Regions from separate parts of the Homo sapiens genome. Here region 1 is linked to region 2. The links come from fine-mapping of genetic effects on gene expression. A gene starts in region 2. The other region holds a variant in brackets. All regions are shown on one strand. Distances are between the middles of the regions.

What was found. PIP is the estimated chance that this variant, and not a neighbour inherited with it, causes the effect. A credible set is the group of variants that fine-mapping cannot tell apart.
Region 1: its variant is the best candidate, but not a certain one, in a credible set for the expression of IL1RAPL1 in tibial nerve (GTEx, PIP 0.74).

The regions. Positions count from the first base shown.
Region 1 is chrX:28,842,705-28,850,704 of GRCh38, forward strand. The region is part of intron 2 of IL1RAPL1 (interleukin 1 receptor accessory protein like 1); the gene reads left to right. Among named protein-coding and RNA genes, the nearest start is that of IL1RAPL1, 260 kb to the left of the region's middle. RefSeq lists an enhancer at 1,007-1,559. The variant T/C (reference allele first, on the strand shown) is at 4,753.
Region 2 is chrX:28,575,290-28,590,484 of GRCh38, forward strand. IL1RAPL1 (interleukin 1 receptor accessory protein like 1) reads left to right here and starts at 12,157. Exons shown (of 11, transcript NM_014271.4): 1 at 12,157-12,758.

The DNA.
Region 1 (8,000 bases), 260 kb after region 2:
CTTAATAAAAGCTTGGCAGTATGAATTGATAGAAAATGAGTAAGTCTATTTATTTGGTGGTAATGAAGATTACTGGGATAAGTTTCCAAAGCAAGTTATAAAATATTGTTCCATTAAACTTTTAAAATGGGATTTGTTTTCCTGCTTTTTGCCTCATACAGAATAAGTATGGCTCTGTTTCAAGATTCTGGTGTGTTCATGATGACCTCTCAAGATCAATTCTGAATCACAGGGAGAAAACGTTGAAATGATAAAGACATGGATACTAGAAATGCAAGCAAGTTATAGACCATTTTATTTACCCATTTTTTTTTTTAGCTCAAGCAATTTCGTGTCTTATATTTATGGATAAAGTTGAAATAAAATTTCCCTTTTTTTCTGTTAAATATTAAGAGTCTGGGGATTAGTTATGCAGCATCTATTTATTTATTTCTGTCTTATAAAAATTATCTTAAAGGGCTTGGCTTAATTTCTATACCATAAAGAAAAAATGTGTAAGATAATCCCTCGCTATCGGGATCATTTTCTTATATAATTAATGAGCTGAACGTAAAAGATAGGTGAATCTACAAATTTATTTATTTTCTGTCTTATAAAAATTGTCTTAAAGGGCTTGGCTTAATTTCTATACCATAAAGAAAAAATGTGTAAGATAATCCCTAGCTAGTCGGGATCATTTTCTCATATAATTAATGAGCTGAACGTAAAAGATAGGTGAATCTACAAAGAAAATGCCCCAGGTACCATCCATTAAAGCATGTTGCTGCTATATGTGCAAGATGTCCAGGGTATGGCTTCCATAATTATAAACAATTTACTATGTCTCAATTATTATTTCAATTGTTAATTCCCTTGTCTCTGGATTGATGCTTTAGTGCATCATTTATTGTGGATATTTTGGATAAAATGAATCTTTGGATTTTGTAAAAACAATATTTCAAATTTGTATGCATCTTTGAAGTCTAAATAGCATGTTATACAAATTGAAAATTGACTGTAAGAGTTGCTACAGATTCAAATTTTATGTAGTTTATTTTTTATATCTTGATTTGTGAAGAAACAAAAACCTTAACTTTGCTTGGTGGCAAGAACAAGGGGATTAGAACATGAACACACAGGATATTCAGAGCAGTGCGTTTGTAAGGCATGCCTTATTTGAGTTTCAGGTGCTTGCTCATTAAGATGAAATTTTTGTCAGGCAGTGTGTATTGGGAGTTTGCTACTTGAAAATCAATAGTCTGCATTCTCTGCCTTATTGTTTCAATAGCCTCTTAACTGATCTCCCTGCTTTCGCTATTGAGCTCCCTGCTGCCTAGCTCTTTGAGCTCATCTCCTAACACTTCCCCTCTCTCCAGCCTTAGTAAATGCCCCCACCCACATCCATTTGTGATATCTTTTCATTTTCTCCCACCAAGAGGTGGAGTTTAAGCTCCCCCTTTTTGAATGGCATATGACCTTGGAAATTCATATGGTCGGAAATTCAAATTTCCCACCAAATTCCCACCAAAGTTCCCAAAAAAGGTGGGAACGGAACGTAAACCCCCACCAAATTTGAATTTGAAATTCAAATTTGGTGGGGGTTTACGTTCCCACCTTTTGAATGCCATGTGACCTTGGTAATTTGCCTTGACAAATACAATGTGGTAAGATTGACATCATGCCATTTCTAGGTTTAGACCTTAGGAGACCTTGAATGCTTCCATTTATTCTCTTGGAACCCTGCTATCAACAGATGATGAAAGACTTAACGTTTTACTCACCCCATTCGACAGGTGGCCAATCATCAGACATGAGCGAGGCCATTGTAGAACAAGAAATCCCCTAATCTTGGCTAGGTTTCCTCATAGGTCTGGGTTAGCTGTTGTGGGTACTCATGTCTTACTTTAAAATATGGTTATTTAATACCTCTGTATTGTTATTCCTCTAAGAAGATGTAATAAGTCCTCTGGAAGATATGACATTAATGGACTTCGCTGAAGTTTTCTGTGACTCTTTATGTCTCTTGACATAAAAGACAAGAATCTCTTTAATAGAAACAAAGTATTTGTCTCTATATTTTTATGGTTGAAAATGTGACTTAAACTAGCTACAATGAGGAAAGAACATGTTACTTGATTGAGATATGGTGTTTCCTTTAGAAAAGAGAAATGCAGTTCTTATTGATATTGTCTTACTGGCATTGTGTACAGTTTGATAGCATTCAGTATTGAGTCTTTTGTGTCACAGTTCTTGAAAAAGCTTTGATTCTTGTTTTAAGATTACCTATATCTTGAGTGATTTTGAAAGCAAGTGCCAAGAAAAGATGTTCTATTGATGTATACATGACAGGTGAAATATCACACCTTTTCAGAAGGCTTCTCTGGTGAATTTAATTCCAAAGACAACCAGAGTGGAGGTGGAAGTAAAAGATACGATTTGTCATGTTATTATAAGTGCATTACAAAAGTAAAGAATCATAGCCCATGCAGGAGGAATGATGTAGGGTCTTGTTTATTAGACATTTTTCCCCAGGGTTTACATAGCTTAGGGATTATGCAAACAAAAACAAAATATATATAGTCCAAGATAAACAAGCCATATTGAAATTGATATGTATGTATGGTATTAAATATTGTTAGATTTTTCTGAAATTCTCATTTTTTATATATTCAACACACATTACTTTAATTGTACGTATTAAAAAAATTTATCAAAATAATCAATGATATAAAATCTCTCCTTATATGATTTAAAATAATCTAGCTATGTCAGATTAAAGGAAACTATTCTGTACCTCTATATCTGGTCAACTCAGGATTTAACCAATAGGGCCCAGGGTATTTTTAGTCTAAATAATATACATTTATGTTTAAATCATTGATTTGAATCTAATGGCAGCTTGTTGAAACATCAACTGAGTGCTTGACTTTCACAGACAAGTAACACATTTTTGACTGTAGCATTTCATCTGAACAATACAAGGTCAATCCTCATATAAAGTATAAATAAATCAGGGGATTCTATTGTATACTTATAACACATATTCATATATTAGAATTTTATGAAGTTAAAAAGATTTTATTTTCTTAAAGATTATTTTTAGAGCAGTTTCAGGTTCCCAACAAAGTTGAGAAGAAGGTACAGGGATTTATTTTACACCCTCTACCCCTACATATGCATAGCCTCTCTCATTATCAACATCCCCCACCAAAGTGGTGCCTTTGTTACAATGGATGAGCTTATTGTGTTGACACATCATTATCACCTAAAGTCCATAGTTTTCACTAGAATTCACTCTTGGTGTTATACATTCTATGCTTTGGGACAAATGCATCCACCATTATAGTATCATATGTATTTTCCCTGACCTAAAAATCCTCTTTAGTTCTCCTATTCATCTTTCCATCTGCCTAGCCCCTAGCAAATACTGATATTTTCCTGTCTCCACAGTTGTGCCTTTTCCAGAATGTCATATAGTTGGAATCACTCAGTATGTAACCTTTTCACATTGGCTTCTGTAACTTAGTGATATGCATTTAAGTTTCCTCCATGACTTTTTATGACTTGATAGCTGATTTATTTTTAGCACTCAATAATATTCTATTGTCGGGATGTACCCAGGTTTATTTATGTGTTCACCTACTGAAAGACATATTGGTTGCATCTGAGTTTTTGCAATTATGAATAAAGGTGCTATAAATATTCACGGGCGGGTTTTTATGTCAAAATACAGTTCCAACTCCTTTGGGTAAATTCCGAGGAGTGTGACTACTGAGTCATATGGTAAGAGCATGTTCAGTTTTGTAAGAAACTGCCAAACTGTCTTTTAGTGTGGCTGTACTATTTTGCATTCCAAACTACAGTGAATAAAAGTTCCTGTTGCTCCGTATTCTTGCCAGCATTTTGTTGTCAGTGTTCTGAATTTTGGCTATTCTAATAGGTGTGTAGTGATATCTCATTGTTGTTGAAGATTTCATTTTTAGTCACAAAAATCATATAGCATTGGAAGGAATGTTAGATAGCATCTGGTTAAAATCACCACTTAATGTATAAACTTACTCTGCAATATTTCGTTTTAAGCAATCATCTCATCCAGAATCCTTTTAAGACCATCTATGGAATGCTTCTTGTCATGAGATGCAGAAAAGCTGTATGCTACCAAACATTAGAAGGCCCCAGGGCTCAGTCCTTGGACATCTTTGCTTTGTGCACTTACTGCCTTGGAGATCTCTTCCAGTATCATGGCTTTAAATACCATTTTTATGCTGGCAATTCCCAAATTTTCATCACCAACCTGGACCTCTCCCCTGAACTCCAGACACATGTATCAATCTGCTTAGTTGACATCTTTATTTTTTGTCTAAATGGGTATGTCACACTTAGCGACCCCAAACAAATTCCTTACTTTTTCTCCCACACCTGACCCTTCACATTCTTCCTCAGTAGTAACTTTATCCTTTCAGATGATCATGCCATAACCTTCATTCCTTTTAGCTCTTCTTTTTCATGCACTCCAGTCTATCAGCAAATTCTTTCAACTCTTCCTTGAAAAGAAGAGTTGAATGGACTCAAAATTTGACTAATTCTCACCACACCTGCTGCATCTTAGCCCAGTGCCCCTTGTCTCTCACCTGTTTTATTTCAATAGTCTTGTTACTGTTTTCTCTGCTTTCTCCCTTGCTCCCTTTAACTGTTTTATTCTGAATATGGCAGCCAGCGTGATTCCTTCACTTACCAATTGTATGATATTCTTCTCTATTCAGCCTCTACTTA[T/C]AATGGTCTTTTATCTCTCTCAGAATAAAATCCCAAGTCCCCACAGTTGCTCACAAGGTTCTCATGCATAAACATCTGGCTCCCCAATGCCTCTTAGTATATCCATTAGTGTTTTCCCCTTGTTTGCTCGACTCCAGGGCACAAGGCTCCTCTGTTACATCAGACACACCCCCTCCCACGTCAGTGCCTTGCACTTGCTGTTCCTTTTGCCTGGGATGCTTTCCACACAGCTATCTCATGAGTCATTCCCGCTCCCCTGCCTGTCACAGTCAGCTCCTTCAGGTCTTTTCTCAAACACCTCTGCTTAGTGAGTCCTTCTCTAGCCACCTGATTAAACTTGCAACCTACTTCTTAACTCTTTTCACCAATGACTTTTTATATATATTTAAATAATTTCTTATTGTCTGTCTCCCTTCACTTCAGATGTCAGCTCCATGAGGAGAGAGTTTTGTCTGTTTTGTTCACTATTATATCCTGCATGCCTACAAAAGGCCCTGCTTTATATACACCATAGAATACTATGCAGCCATAAAAAGAACGAGTTCACGTCCTTTGCAGGGACTTGGATGAAGCTGGAAACCATCATTCTCAGCAAACTAACACATAAACAGAAAACCAAACACTGCATGTTCTCACTCATAAATGGGAGTTGAACAATGAGAACACATGGACACAGGGAGGGGAACATCACACACTGGGACCTGTCGGGGATGGGGGGAAAGGGGAGGGAGAGCATTAGGACAAATACCTAATGCATGCAGGGCTTAAAACCTAGATGACAGGTTGGTAGATGCAGCAAGCCACCATGGCACATGTATACCTATGTAACAAACCTGCACGTTCTGCACATGTATCCCAGAACTTAAAGTAAAATAAATAAATAAATAAAATGAAATAAAAATTAAGTCCCCTGCTTAGTAAGTATTGATTGACAGAATGAATTATTTTTTATACATTCTAAATATTAGGGAATTCTGTACTTGTAGGGTTTTTTTTTTCTCAACTGTGTATTTTAAAGGAGAGAAAGCAATCAACAACTCCTTTGTTTTTAATTTGGGTTTTCTATATTTAACAGATTTATCATTTTATTTTTTCCCTCAGTGAACTTGTTTATTAAAAAGAAATCTGTCACTAGCCAAAAGCTGTCTACCTTTTAGCTACTCGGCAATATTGGTGCATAATCATGGGTTCTTGGGATGCTTCCAACTTTGGTTTGACCTTTACAGATTAGCTCTGAATTAGGGACCACTGCTGGGTGAGAAGTAAGGTGTAGGAAGAAGACAGATATTCCAACACAATCTGGAATAATTAGAAGGACGAAGACAACAAGGAAAGGAGACTATTTTCAGTGCTTCAGGCCTCATTTTTATAACTGCTGACACAAGCCTGCTATTAAAATAGTCACATTTCCTCAAATATTGGACTTTCAGATGCAAACGGCGCAGTCAAATAGTTCTGTTAACATGACCTAATTTTCAGAGCTAGGTGTTATATGTGCTTTCATTCTGAGTCTGTAAACCTTTAGACCTCTGATTCTTTCAGCCCTAAGCTGATAGTATTATTGTCTAAAACCTAGCAATTTTCTCTGTAAACTTTATCATTTTGCATTTTATAAAATCCTTTATACTTACCTATGTAGAGCTTGGAGTTTACTATCCTAGGGAGAAGGAGTACAAGGCAATTAAAAAAAAAAAAAGCCCCGTATTCAAAGCAGAATGTTTCAAAAAGACTCTACTTCTGAAAAGGGGAAAAAATCACCATTGTTCTGTTGGCTGAATGTGTTGGAAGTATCTCAAAGAAGTACAATTGAATTAATTATATTTTCATCTCTGTGTACCCATTCAAGTCTGAGAACATGCACTTCACTGTAGTTTTACCTCCTTCTGGATTACACGAGAAGCTGCAAGATTATCAAGATGTCAGACATTCCTATTGGGATAACATGACATCTTTACTAAGGACTTCTGTGGGTCTGATGTTCTTCTTCCTAGAAAATCATATGAAAGATACTTTAAAAGTGCCATGTACCCACTTGAGCTTATTTTTTAATTCTGATTTTTAAAAATATTTTACTACTTAAAGTGACATTTAAAAAGCATATTAAACAACGATATAAGACTCTGACTTCACAAATTAGTTTTTCTAAGAACATCTAATTAGACAACTTGGATTGTGTCTTACCAGGGTGCATAGATGTAACCAACCTAAGCCAGCCCTTTTGACAATCTGCAGTATCAAAGCAAAATGGAACTCTCGTCTTATACTTACATTAGTACATAGGTGGTCTTTCTTGCTCATCTTTATCCCCTTTTTAAAAACCATAGCATAGTGAGTAACACATCTTATATACTGCGTATTAGACACATTTCTGTTTATCTTTGTCCCTGTCTTATGAATCTTCATTTTGATTATCTGAGCAGTGTTGCTGATTTGCTCTACTGGCTTTATTCAACTAATGCCAGTACTCCCTTATTGGACTAAGGTCTTAAAACTACCGTGTGCTTATGTGTACTAAAGGTAGTTACTGTCTGCAAGTGAGGAATACATTTGATGGAACTGATTAATTAGGGTGATTTTCTGTTTTTGTGGTCAATTGAAATCTTTTGTTAATTTTAGCTTTGCTAATTTTAGCTGAATTTTCTACAGTAATTTTTATTTATCCATAAGTATTTGATTTCTGCAAATTGGAAGTAAAATCACTCATGTTTGTTTACCTAGTTGGAGCTCAGATTTTTATTAAAATATTGTTAAAATTTTATTAAAATATGCCTATAAAAGCATAGTGACTGGCTGAATGCATTGTGATGCTCACGAAAATGCCCTCTCACATCTCCTACCGCAAGAAACACAACTGAGTACTGGGCTCGAGATGCTGCTTTCTGGATCCATCACAGCTTTGGTGCTGAGGCCCCACTCTTCTTAGGAGCTGCTTCTAGTCAGTGACAGAGTGCAGCAGCAGGGGTACTAAAACGGGCCCATTGCTGAGGGATGTGGGAACTCCACTGATGGCAATGTGAGCTCAAGAATCCCCATGAACTTTACACTGCACTACAGTGTAAAGCTTGTTTTCCTTCCTCCCTCTCTTCCCCCTATTCTTCAAAGAGGTTAGACCCACATCGAGGTGAGATCGGTCTCTTGGCCTCCTCTGGCTTCCTCCTGTTTTCTTTCATAGGTGTTCCTCTCTGACCCTGCCTCTGATAACTCTTGGGTTTGTCTAATCTTATCTTTGTGTCTGCTTTTCCAGGAGG
Region 2 (15,195 bases):
CCCGGGAGGCGGAGGTTGCAGTGAGCTGAGATCGCGCCACTGCACTCCAGCCGGGATGACATTTTAAGACTATGTCTTAAAAGAAAAAAAAAATTAAAACAACACATTTAACAAGCAACACAATTAAGCTTGATTGTTAATTGGGGGAGGGGGGTATGATTATGCATGCATTAGGAAATATACAATTGTCTCATGCACATGTGAGACGTTTTAGAAAAGTTGATCATATATAATCTATTAAATCCTCAAAAATTTGAGATCTTACAATATCTAACCATAATAAAATTATGCTAGAAGATAATTTAAAAAATAAAAATATCCCTGATCATATGGAAATTTAAAACACACACACATACACACACATACACAACACTATGTAACTCTTAGGTTAAAGAAAAACATCATAGTGAAATTTAACAATGACAAACACAGAATTATAAAGAAACACTAGATATTAGGAACTGTGAGATATGGCAAAAATGCTTTAAGGAAGATTTACAGCCACAAGCCTCATATTAAAAAAGAAGAAATTCTTAAAATTAATGATTTAAATATTCATCTTAAGATGATAGAGTATGATTGACAGAATAAATCAAAGAAAGTAGAAGTCAACAAATATCAAAAGCATAGCAGAAATAAAAATACGAGACAAAAGTATAATTGGAAAGTCAACAAAATGTATCACGATTAGTATGCAGGATATAATTGCAGACAAAGAAAATACTGATATGTGCCACCTGAGGGTGAGCCTTGGCGTTCATAAACAAATTTGTGGGGTCAATTTCCTCAGTTCTTCCTCCCTGAAATCTGTCTGGTATGTTTCAATTCTCTGCCTTCACCCTTTTTGGTTCCCTAGTCAGAAACTTGGGGCTCTAATTACCCCGATACTGGCAGGCTCTGTTGTGGACTGCTGTGATGAGATTCATGTTCTGGCTCAAGTGGAGGAAGACGGGCAATAAAAAAAACAAAACAAAATACGACAATCAACCAGGAAAACAAAGAGAGTTTGTCCTACCCTCTTGAAACTGCAAGCTGTATAGAACAGAGAAGACTCCTCCCTCAGAGTTTTCATTCTTACTGGTTCCAGTAACTGCAGCTGCCATCTCCACCAACACCACAAGATTGCCTGGAAACTGAGGCACAACAGAATGGAGAAATAAAGAGAAAGGTGGGAGAGAGTTCTCCACTCTCTCTTAGCATTAGGAGTTTCCTTTCCCAGTCCTTGAGCCAGGGGAAGATGGTCTCTCCTGGAGCTTTCTCTTTCTGTGCCACAGAGCTCATTTCCAACTTACCACTTGTTTTGACTTTAGATTGGGAGATGTCAAAGGGAAAATAAAAAGGTCAACTTAGTACAAATTCACAAAATTCACTTCAAATTCTGGTGTTCTGTCCTGATCTACCTACTACTATTTACTTTTCAGAGTTTTCAAATAGTTGCTTCATACATTCTGTGCAGGTTTTAAAGTTGTGTTCAACAGGAAAAGAAAGAATAAAGTGTACTTACTGCATTTTATCCAGAATTGGAGCCGATACTATTTTATGAAGTTAAAAAAATTGAAATGTAAAATATTTATATTCTTTAGGGATATCATAGATGCAACAAAGTTATATGAAAAAGAAGTCAAACAAAAAATGCACGTGAGATTCAGGATAATGGTTTCTCTAGATGAAGGAAGGCAGGTGTATAGGTTGGCAGGGGTACCATTCCATTTGTTTGATATAGATCATTATTAAGATACTTGCTTTTGTTTTGGGTGGCGCTTTCTCAAGCATTCATAACCTCTTGAAAACTAAATAAATACATAAATAAAACTAGGCTGCACATAGACCAATGAAAAAGACTATTAATCAAGAATAGTGATCGGTACAATTTTGTACACCTGAATACAAAATAATAAATCAATAGAGGAAAAAATAGAAGAAAAATGTTTTCTTCTTGCCTTTGAGAGGTTAGAGGTGAGAGGTTATAAATCAGGGTCATTTAAGCTCTGTTGTACCAACAAATGAACCTGAAATCTCAGTCACTTAGTATAATGAATGTTTGTTTCCTAGTCACACAAAGCCCAAGTCTGATGCTACTGGCTACATAACTCTCCTTTTAGCAATGACTTAGGAATTAGGGTTCATCTATCACATGACTCCATCATCTTGAAGCCCTTTCCTTCAAGCCATACATAAGAAGAAAATAAGCATGAGAATAAAGACAGAGGGGAGATCTCTCTGGAGATTTTAGGAATCAGGTCCAGAAGACGTATGTAACTCATCTGTCCACAATCCACTGTGGACCCACCTAGATGTAAAAGGACCCGGCAACATAGTGTTTTGAGTGCTTAAGAAGGAAATTGTTATGCTCGGGCATGGTGGCTCATGCCTGTAATCCCAGAACTTTGGGAGGCCAAGGTGGGCAGATCACGAGGTCAAGAGATCGAGAGTATCCTGGCCAACATGGTGAAACCGAGTCTCTACTAAAAATAAAAAATTAGCTGGGCGTGGTGGCACGCACCTGTAGTCCCAGCTACTGGGGAGGCTGAGGCAGGAGAATCACTTGAACCAGGGAGGCGGAGGTTGCAGTGAGCTGAGATCCCACCACTGCACTCCAGCCTGGCGACAGAGCGAGACTCTGTCTCAAAAAAAAAAAAAAAAAAAAAGAAGGAAATTTTAAAAGTTTGGTGAACACATAGTATTGTCTCTGTCACAAGACACTTTTACCATAATGATATTCAATATTCAAGGTTTAAGTTACTGCCTCTATTCTGCTATGCTATAATCTCCCTTTTGTACATAGTATCTGCTATACAATAATCACATTCTAGTATAATATTCCTCTAATATCTGATAAACACACACAAATTGAATATAGATATCTAGTTATTAAACATCATCCATGATATCTCTCTGGTCTCCTGTATGATTTACTAAAAGAGTTGTTTTCCTCAGTGTAAAAATTAGTTCAGAAAGCCATACTGGTATTTACATAACATTAACACATCCTTCATCATACTATTCTTAGGTGTTTTAAAAGTTGAAATATTAATGTTTTTGCCCTGAAAGCCATAATTTCATCACATTTCTCTCATTCAACAGAAACATAGTAATTCACTTAGAGCTCCTATAGGAAAAAGATAAACAGCAAAGAGATACCCCAAATCGAAACTAAGAGACTGCTGGAGAAAATAGTGCACTAGAAATTTTGCTGAATTGCTACTGACTCTTTAGTTTACAGCTTGATGTACTAGCAATATCAAGACAAAAAGGCAACATACAAGCCAAAGACAAAGTTGATGATTTTAGCTAAATGTAACATAGAGAAAATAATCAAATGCTAAGCGTGGCAGATAAGGGTAGAAATTAAGAAAAGGTACAATTTCCAAGTTTGCCACTGTGAGACATTGAACAAGCCTTGATTTCCTCATCTGTAAATTGGCCATAACAACAGTACTGATTTATTTTGAAGATTAAATGAATTAGCAGGTATAAGATGCCTCCAGTGGTGCCTGGCACATAATAAGTACTGAATAAATGCTAGCTATTATCATTTCACAAAAGAATTTAACAAAGCTTTGATTGACACTAAAAAGTCAAAGACATGATTATCTTCATTATCCAGTTTCTTTTCTATGTTAAATTATACTAAATTAATTACAATTCCAAAAGAAAACCCCATTTATTTCCTGAAAACATTTTTTAAAATAAACAAATCCTGCCTTTTCATATCCATTTCACAGGAAGACCTTTGTGTTCAAATATGATACAATATTTAACTTTCACAAACATCTGCCTACACTTTAGTTTTTATTATTTTTAATAATCTATAATTAATGTAGGAGTTAGATGTTTTTCTTCTGATATTAAAACAAACTTCTGTTTTTTTTTTGGAGACAGAAATTGCTCTGTCACCCAGGCTGGAGTGCAATGGCGCCATCTCGGCTCACTGCAACCTCCACCTCCCGGGTTCAAGCGATTCTCCTGCCTCAGTCTCCTGAGTAGCTGGGACTACAGGTGCGTGCGACCACACCTGGCTAATTTTTGTATTTTTAGTAGAGACAGGGTTTCACTATGTTGGCCAAGCTAGTCTCGAACTCCTGACCTCGTGATCCGCCCACCTTGGCCTCCCAAAGTGCTGGGATTACAGACATAAGCCACCGCGCTCGGCCTAAAATAAACTTCTTTTTGGTAAAACTTTGTTATTAAAATATGAAATATATGCACAAGTGCATACATTATAAGCATACAGGTCAGTGAATTTTCACAGTATGAATATACCCAATTAACGAACACCAGGATCAGAAAAAACCAGAACATTATAGCATCCCTGAAACTCTTTTTATGCTTCCTTCTAGTCATTACTTCCACCAAGGATAACTCCTATCCTTATGTGTTGAAGTGTAGATTTGGTTAGTTTTGTCCTTTCTATAAATGCAGTCTTACAGTATGTACTCTTCTGTGTCTGGTTTATTTTGCTCAACATTTTGTTTGTGAGATTCAATAATATTGTTGTGGATAACTGTAGCTTGTTAGTTCTTATTCCTTTATGGCAGCCAACAGTCTAGATATACCACAGTTTATTCATCCATTTTACTCCTGATGAGCATTTGGGTAGTTTCCAGTTTGCAACTTTTTTGGAATAAAACTGCTCTGAACTTTCTAATACGTGTTTTTGGTGAACATATGTCTGAATTTGTGTTGAGTATATACCTAAGAATGGGATTGCTGACATCATAGGTTATGCATATGTTTAGATTTAATAGGCACTGCTGAAAAGTCTTCCAAGGTTGTTGAAACAATTTTATCTTTCACCATGAGTAGACGTGAGTTCCAGTTGCTTCAACTCTTCACCCACATTTTCCGTTGCCCATGATTTCATTTTAAACATTTTGGGGAATGTGTCATGATGTTGCACTATGCTTTAAATTTATATCACCCTTATGTCTAATTAAGTCACTTACCTTTTGATGCATTCATTTGCCATTTGGCTATCCTCCTTTGTAATGTGAGTAAAATAGACTTCTTCAATTGGTAAATATATGTTTCAGTATTTTGTTCATTATTATTATAACTAGCTGGTTAGACAAAGCAGATTCACCTACTTGGCTTGTACTGAACAAAGTTAGACTGGTCCTCAGATGAACTGTCAGTAATACCCATGAGTTGTAGTCAGACAAGGTTATTCTAACCCCAAACACTACCAGCTTATTAAAAAAAAAAAGAAAAGAAGAAGCTATCCTGAATGTCTAGTTCCCTTCAACTCTGTAGCCAGTATAACAAAAATAAAAACAAAACACAAAACAAAAATAAAATGGCGATGACTCCTTACACCACTATAATATTCTCTGATCAGAAAAGAAAAGAAATGAAAACAAATTTTAAAAGCTAAAATGAAACAAAGCACTCCTCTCTCAAACACATACTATGTTCTAGGTACTCTATGGAGTATACATACTACAACATCCCCAGGAGGAGGTAATCCCATTAACTTCATTTTTTTACAGGAGGACATTCAGACTCAGAAAAGGTAAGGAATTTTCTCAAGGCCATATGGTGATAGGATTCAAACCAGATCATATTATATCAGATATCTCCATTATGTCCTCAACTTATCTTTTTAAATAAAAGGCTGACAGGCGATATGGCTGAGTCATGCCAGAAAAGAACTCCTAAAACTTCCTAGCTATGTAAGCTTGAATAACTATGTCACTTTCCTGGGTGAGACTCAATTTCCTCTGTCTAAAATAAAGAGATTATTCAAGGTTGTCTCTAGAGCCCCCTTCAAAAACTGATTCTATGATTTTAAACACTTTTGAGTTCTACTACCAGAACCAATGTTATTTCCTTCTAGGTACAAGAAAATTGGCCTACTTAGATGTTGCTCTTTATTACTGGTCTTCACTCTTTTGTGATTTTTATCTTGCTTTATCGATAAACCTCAAGGTCACCGAAATAACACCTTCTCTGTTCAGTCTTCCCTGATTCTTTTAGGCTGAATTCAGATCTCTCCTAGAGTACTTACCACAGCATGTATTACATGTGCTGTTTGTGGGTCACTCTATTGCTAGACATGAGCTCCTTAAAGACAAGGACTGTGCCTTACACATCCCTAGAGCCTCAACACCCTGCACTGTCTGTCACATAGCATGTAATTAATAAATGATAGACAAATGAATAGGTGAACAAATATTACTATCTCCAGTCACATAGGCTGAATATTTGAAAGCCAGAAGTGGGACCTCTATGATTATTTCTAGTTACCCTCTATCTTTCATTCCCAGAAACCAAGCAAGAGTGTGACTATAAGCACAGTCCCAGCCTCAGCTCTCCACAGGAGGGAGAGCTTGGAGTATAAATTGCACCACAGAGTTTTTTCAAACTATAGTAAAAAGAGCCAGGGTTTCATACTTCCACATCAGTCAGTTCTTGGGTAAGGTGGAAGAGGGTTTCAAATTCCAGGTACTTCCTGTTCTCATCACAGGCATGACACACAGTGCTAGTAGCCCAAGAGCAATTGTTAAAGAGGGTATGGGTGCTGGCCTTTAGAAGCAAACTACAGAGAAGAGGGTGATGGCTGTGAGTACACAGAGCTAGTCTGGGCTGAACTTTCACAGCCCCTGCCTTACCTTCTTTTCCCAATCTATTTTCCTCTGAAAAATATTATTAATCTAGGTAATTTGAGTGATACTGAAATTTGATTCCATATTTTATACTTGGAAACATTAGCTCACACTGTTCTCTTCCTTCATCAAACCTATTTTATACGCTGTAATTACCGTGAAATGCCCTGAATCATTTCAGAGGAAGTGATCTTCCATATATTTACATCAATACCGTTTCATTTATTTTCCCAAACCCAGAAGAGTATGAATTCTGCCCTACCACCCCCAAAGCATTCAATGCAGGAAATATTATTATTTTACCTGCTTCAACCACAATATCTGAAGCTATTTTTTTGTGCGTTCAATTTGAAGTAGAAGATATGCCACAGGTTCTGTGTCCTGGATATCATGAAGTCTGATATAAATACATATAAAAAGTGCAAGTGGTCTATTTCAGCAGAACTCTATGCAGAGATCAGAAATTCACCAGGAAATAGGTCTTTGTAACTCCCAAGTTCTGGTTAGATTTTAATAAAATGTAAGCTTTAGGAGAGCAGGAAACTGAACTAGATATATCCATAATGATACCCTCAGTACTTTGAACCATGCCTGGCACATAGTGGGTTTCCAGGGCACATTTCCTGAATCAATTACAATTTTAATATTTCACCCACCTGAAATATTGTTCTGCGGTTTTATTTAAACTGGCTGTCAGCATGGAATGACTTCTGCATTCTCTCCTGGAAGTGGGTGAATTTCCATGGTGAGCCATTCCTCTATATACAGTTTGCAAATCATTTTGGGAACCTTCCAAATGAAAGGCACTGTATAAATATACCCTCCCACCAGCAGCCAGCCGGCTTTCCACCGGGGATGCATTTGCATCGCTTATGTACACAGTGTTTCATTTGGGGCATTGCTTTTATTTTTATGACCATAAAAGAAATATTCACAGTATGAACAATAATGTAAACTGCATTCAAGAAGATATATATTTATATATTTTTATGATTCAAAACTTAGAAATCTGAAAGAAAAGCAGGCATGGCATTTTTCTTTCCTGTTGCTGTTTGCTTTTTCATAGCATTCTTTATTATTCCTGAACTTTATGGTGGAATTTTGCTGAAATGCTCAAGTCTTTGTCTGTACCTCATTTGAGAATATGTGGTGGTGGGTTCAAATGAATATTGCTGGCAAAAGGCCTGAAAATGAAGAGTACTTGATTTTGCATTTATTCAAGGCTATAATAATAGTTTGCTTTAGCGCAGCTTTTTGTGGATGGAGGCTTCTTTAAGGAGAGAAAGAGAAAAAGAAGCAACCTCAGGTATAAAATACCTTCTAAGTAACTTAGCATGATAATCGAAACTTTCACAGATGGAAGAGGCTTTGAAGAGACGTATTTTAGCCTTCAAAACAAAAGGGGGGCTGATTTCATAGAGCATTGTGGGGAGCTAGACTTTGAATTCATATCATATGGAAAATGTTTAGTGAACTTTGAAATAAACTGCCAACAGAATTAAATCAAAACCTCTGTAAATTATGTATTTATCTACATAGAATCATCTGCACACAAAAATGAACTGAATTATAACTTCTTAATTTATACATTTCCATAATTAAATTTAAACTGAATAAAATAACCCAATTCAGACATATTTCCTAACCTTAAGGATATTCTAGCCTTAAGGATTTTATTAAAAAGAGAAGCTACTCTGAATATTCAGAGTAATTTTATATAAAAAGTATCTAAAAAGGTAGATTAAATAAAACTCTTGTTCACTTCACTGAGTGGCTGGCAGCTGAGTAGGCTCTCTTTCTCTCTTTAAAGAAGCCTCCATCCACAAAAAGCTGCGCTAAAGCAAACTATTATTATAGCCTTCAATGACGTGAAATGTGAAGAATTAAATTTCAACTACCAATAGTTAAAGACAGAATCAATAAGAACTTGAGTTCATTTCAGGTGTTGATCATTCTCTTTCGTAAATACCAAATTTGATATTTTCTCACGTTTTACTACTAAAACAATGAAAGTGATTTTTGAAACCTTAACTATAGGATAGTAATATTAGGAAATAGCTCACTCAGTTTATTTTGGGGTTTGTAAAGTGGGGTTATATTCTCCATCTCCCAAGTCAGAATATTTCTGTAGCTAACCTTTAATTTCATACTCCCATTAATACCAACCTTGTTTCATTAAAATGAATCTAATGTACAGTATCTTGACATTCTTCTTTATTACTAGAAAATAAAACAGCAGTTTCTTCAACTGAGAAAAGCTAGAAGCATGGAATTGATCTGCAGCCAGTTTTTACTACAAACCCCATAATGCTTTGCATTATAGCCTACAATCCCCATACTGCAGTGCCAAACCTACAGTTAACCATCATATTACTGGAAAGAAAAAGAACAGAATATTTGAGAACTATGTAGCATGCAAGGATTCTACTTGAATAGTAAATTATCAATTTGTTTCCAGTATTTTGTGATTTGCTTGCCTTTTCCTTTAGTAAAAAAGGCATATTTATGGATATGCACTCTATTTCCTCATCCTCAATATAATGTCGCATATTCTCAAATGATATATCAAGGTATATACTTTCCATGTCAAAGACTCTTTTTTAAAAATATCCATCATTGGGTTGTGTAGTTTTCCACCCTCCTTTGGAGGGAGGTCAGCTTTATTCAGATTTTAAAATAAAAATCACAATACATTGTTGAATGCTCTAAACATCTGCAAATGAGAATTCAGTGAAGTAATTAAAATTCTTAATTAGATGCACCTTGCAGCTGCCGTTAGTCTTAATTGGCAATAATGCAGCTACATTTTGTTCTGACACATATCTTCAGAAGAGTTAGAGAACTGAAGGGAGGCAAGAGGAAAATGTTCCCACACAGTTCAAGATAGTTCGCACAAAGAGGATCCCATGGCAACAAACAGCGAGGCCCACAGTTGGCTCTGTAGGATCCAGGAATAGACAATGCTTCACCTCAGATTCAAACAAACACTTCCTTTCCTGGATCTGATCATTTCATTTGAAATGAAAGCACTTTAAATCATCTCTTGAAATAGGATTGAAGTGGTCAAATGTTCACCTGTGTCCTCGAGATGCTTTTCAAAGCTTCTAGATGCTCTCTGCAGCCCATGTCAAGGTAATAATCATAACTCCTTCTCTGTGTACAGTAACAAACTGACTTGCAGAACATTTCAAAGAGAGGACGTGATTTTTGTACCATATGGAGCTGGACAGCACGTTGGCAACTGGTTAATTTCAACCTGTCATTTTATAGACAAGGAAACTGAGGCCAAGAGAAATTAAAGTGATTCCCTTGGGTAATTATGGCTACTTAGGAGTAGAATTTAGACTCAAATCTAGGATTGGAGCCTACGGTCAAGACGTTTACTTTTAAATTTTGCTTGAAGCAATTACATTTACACTTGTTACTTGTGCCCCCCTCCAGGTCTGCTTGAGGTCTATTCACATTCAACTGGGTCAACTAGAGGACTGTGATGGAAGGTATAGAAAATCTAGATCACTCACGTTGAAAGGAGGGGAATATATTTCCTCTTCACTTCTAATCTTCAGTTTAGGCTGAATTATAGCATGTGGGGAAGAAGCAGAGGGAAGAAAAACACTGGCACAGAAGATGTGAACATGGGTGAGTTAGCTTCAAAGAAACCTTGTAAGACTTGCCTACCGACTTTAACCACATTTTCCCTCTGCTTAGGTTGGAAATTTCAGTGTACTGCTCCTTTTTTCGAAATACAGTTTTACCTCCCTGTCTAGTCTCCCTGCCTGCTGTTATTCTCACCTGCGCGCTTAGTTTGTATTCGTTTAGCTCACATTTTACCTAATTTTTAAAGTGTTTTCTTTATCTTGATGCGTGTTTTACTCCCCAAATTAAAACAGTTCTGAAGGGCCAAGGCTACTTTACCTATTTATTCTATTTTTGGTTTATCCGGTTAAGCCTGCCATTACAAAAGCTTGTGGGATACATTACAAAATGGGTTAAGGTTTTTAAGTACATGGGCTGCCGGTGTTGAATGGGAAAGGTTGCAGGGTGGGGAGAGGGAGAGAAGTAACTAGAAAAGCGGCTCGCTGCCTTTTAATCATCCAGCCTACTCAGCTGCCGGAAACTGACACTGTTGCTGCAGTGTAAACATTAACATTTTTTAAGGGTCTTGCTACTCCAAATGTGGTCCACAGCCCAGCAACATTATTATGGGCCACGGGCGAGCTTATTAGAAACGCAGGGTCTCAGGCCTCACTCCAGATGTACCGAATCCGAATCTGCATTTTAACAAGACACCCAGGTGACGGTGTGTACATCAAAGTTTGAGAATCACGGAATCACATGTGAGTGTTATACTATCCCAATGTAAATGGTCAAGGACCTTAAATTGAGCAAATAACCTAATGTATTTACCCGTACCTACTTTGACCCTCTTTCTTCATCACAAATTCATCTCAGAAACCAGCAGCGAACTCTTTTGCAGGGAACTCAATTACGCGGTGGATGGGAGGAGGATCCTCTTCAATACCCTCCCCTCCGCTCCTCCTCCCACTCCCCACCCCCACCCCGCACTCCCAGAGAGCCTTCCACAGGCACCCTTCTCCCAAGCCCCACTCACTTAGGGAAGATTTTGCTCCTCCCCCAAACTGAAAGCGCGGCTGTGAGGAGGGTTACTGCTTGAAGGACTCACAGTTTGCATATCAATACAGACAGAGGCACTTTTGCAAAACTGCCCTTTAGAAACAATTATCATCTTAGCACCTGAGGTTTGTTTGGAGCAGCCCCCGCACCCCTTCTCTCTTGTAATCCATCTTAAAGTGATACGGAGAATGGGGGCGTTGGGGAGACAGTGATGGGGGTGGGAGGGTCGCGCGCAATAATAAATCTGCTTCAAAGAGAAGAGATGAAAAGGAGGTTATCAAGAGTGTGTCGGCTTAGGCATCACTCTCTGTATCTTTCTGCTTCCTAGAGAAATGGAACCATAATTCTAAGGTGGCTAAGGCAAGACTGTATAAGCATCCAAATTTGCCAGTCTGCTTTTGCCTGGAAGAACAGATTTCCGTTATTTGAAGCCTCCCAGGGTCCTTTCCAAAAGATTCCCAGGCTACCTTCCTTCCACTTCGGTCTTCTGAGAACTCAAACTCGCAAAGCGGTGGCTGTCTGTGGATTGGCTAGTACTAAAATATCCATTGGGTGGCAGTAATACTATCCTCTTTATGACTTGCAGCAAACCAGAGAATGCATTCAATCAAATGAACCGATCTTGTAGAAACACTGGAATCATTTATGCGTTGCAGTTTCTCTTTCTTGTTTTCGCTCCTTCTTCCCTGGGATATTTTGAGTGGATTGTGGCTATTAATCAAGATCTCGTGCTATTCGTGTTTTGCTTGTGGTTTTCGCTCAGGATTAGCATCATTCAAGGCAAACGCAAAGCTGCTTTTCCCACCCCCCCCCCCGACTCTTTTTTGAAAAATCATTTTTGGGGGCTGCTGAGGAGAGCTAGGACCCAGGAGACACCTTCCCAAACAGCAGGGGTTGTGTGCTTTCACATAGCAGTACTGTACAAGGAAAACCCCGTCGGATCTGTTATTGCGGGATACTTGTGAAATATACATAGGATTCTTTCTTATGGCTGCATCCCGGATCTGGAAATTTTACTTGGGGACCAGGAGGATTTGAAAGGCTGCATGTACTCAGAAGATTTGCAAGCAACACTCCAATTCTTGTCATAGAGCTCGCAGACTTCTCACTTATCGGCTTTTTTCCTTCCTTATTTTTTAAGAATTATTCTTATTTTCCCCTCTCTTTTTCTGCTCTCTCCTCTCTCAGTCTCTCCTTTTCTATCTGCCTCTTCATTTTTCTCCTAGTCTGTTTTTTTTTTTCCTGCTCTGCACCTGGATTGTATCTTCAGCAAACAATCGGGCACTTTGAGAACTAACTGGAGACAGTCTTGTAGGGAAGATCTGTATGGAATTATCTGCTTTTATGGTGAACTTGGCATTTGTGAATGGGAATCTTGTTCACAATATTAATTGCTAGCAAAAACAAGAAAAAGAACACAGGAGTAAAACGTGGATTTTTCTGAATACGCATTGTGATGACCAGCAATTACCTTACCGACTAATATCCAGAGGAGAATAATTTGGAAGACTGTTGTGGGTAAGGTCATTTTATATATGCAAACCCATCAGTGGCATGAGCAAACTTGGGCATTTGTAATGGGAATGGGTGACTTGAATGATTGCTGCATCGCATTGATGGCTGTGATGTGGCCGTTATTGGCACTGAATGGAATAACTGCAGTTGGGTGTGTTGATATGTGTGTGTGTGTGTGTGTGTGTGTGTGTGTGTGTGTGTGTATGTGTGTGTGCGTGTGTGTGTATATGTATGTGTGCCCGTATTCTGAGTGCAATTGAAAATCAAAGTATCACTCTCTCCCCCAATTATTTTGATATGGAAGAGTGTCTTGAATTAATTCTGGGTAGACACTCTTTGTTTGAATGTAATATTTGTGGCCCCTGCGTTCTGGAAGGGGTAGCAGCAGTAAAAGAAACACTTAGTGAAGAGCCCCATTTAAAATGAAACGAGCTACTCTCTATGCATTAAAAGAAATATGTTTTCAACTCAGTGCAGCATTCTGCTGCATTTCACAGCCGCAATGGGACCAGGGACATCCCACTTGTCAAGTTCTTAAACTTTAAGGTGATAATCATCGTTAATTGTTCTCTAGGTTGTGGTTACTGGAGATTATTAAGCGCCCTGGGCTACTTTTTTATCTACTGGATTATCACTCAGAGTGAAAAAAGGAAAAGAAAAGAAAAAGCTAAAAATGATGGCTAACATAGAGAAGAATAAGGCAACATTATCTTAAATATCACCACAGTGCTTTCTTTCTCAAGTTCAATTGCCCAATAATATAATTATTTACCCAATATCCTAAATAGCTGAAGCTGAGACCCACGTGCAGGGGAGTCGAAGGTCTGAAAGCAGAGACCGTCCTTTTATTGCAATGCAGCCAGCTTGGGAAATGCAGGCAATTAATTACATACTTCCCCTAACCTTAAGTTGAAGATGTGTCCTGTCTGCTACATCTATTTTACCCTTTCGGTAAAAAGTTAGAGACTAGAACACTAAGGATGTTTAAGCATATTCTGCCTGGGAAATGGGATAAAGAAATCAATATTGATGACGTGGTTCAGTGCACTGTACTGCAATGCTAAAGTTCCATATTCAGTGCCTGTGATGAGAGAGTGGAGCATTTACATATGTTATAAATCTCACCTGGTAGATTGATCCAAAGGGGAGGGGAGAAGATATGTGGATATGTAGGAAGATGGATGGAAGTCGTGCATAATCGGTGATTATGTAACTTCATTACATCAGCGAGTTTCAGTCAACGATAGTGAGATGAGATGATTGTATAGAGAGAGGCTCCATCACCCTGTTAACTTTTGAAGGCTTGTAACAGCTAACAGAGGAGGAGGGCAGAGAGAGATTAGCTCCAAGGGTCCTGTAAACCTTGATCTCTATGGCAAATTTTGCATGAGTTTTCTCATAGTGAGTTTCGGAGGGACATCAGATCATATAAGCTTTAGGGCTGGACAGGACCAATTTTAGCCACACCCGTGGAGAGTCAAAATGAGTCTGCGATGTTTCAGAAGTGCCCCATTGAGTAACTGGGACTGATGATTCCAGCCAAGGTCATAGTTCTTTACCCTAGGATTGAAATATATGACCCCAACTGAATGGAAAGTTAAATTCATTGAAATGATGACTGTGAACGGAATGAATATTTAGGGTCCTTTCTTGCATTTTTCCTGGTAGAGCTTGATGCAGATTTCAGCCTGGTGGTTCCCTCATAAAAATGATGATTGCTTCCACAGCGTGTCAGAAATGACTGTTTTGTCCCTTTATCTTAACCATGACAATCTCTTTCTGGGCCATTTTAACCTTCTGGGAAAAGAGAAGTAAAAGCATTCAAAGGTAACAGTACCCTGTTAAATTACAAATTAAATGGCACTGGATTCATTATTAACACAAATCCCAGAAAAAAAGAGCAATCCATGTTCAAGTTTCACTTATTGAATGGCTTAAAAGACAGGTTGCAGCTGCCAAAGACTTTTACCATCATATGAGATAAATGTACTGTGCTCACTGTGCAGAGAAGGGAATACTGCAGAATAAAATGTCATTTTCCCTCATGTTTTATCTGGAGTTGTGATTTTTTTTAAAGAAGATACACATCAGGTCCTTTTGGCCTTCTACTGTTTTAGGATCTGTTTTCTCCTCAATAGATCACATATTCACAAAAAATGAAACTTCTGAAATCCTAACCCTGTTCAGTTGAATCACCTTATTATCTAGTTGTGCTATTTCCTATTTCTCTTTACATTTATTTTACAAAGAGGGCTAAACGACTTTTCTGTCAGGGAGATGAGATGATTTTTTTCTGTTTTTCTTTTATTTCTCATATTCCATTTCCTTCCAGTCCTAAGGAGTAAGATGCAGAATCTAGACACCCTCTAAGTAACTTTGAAAAGATTTGCTCACCCTGAGTCAGAATGGTGGGATTGGGGAATGAAATTCTAAGGTCTGA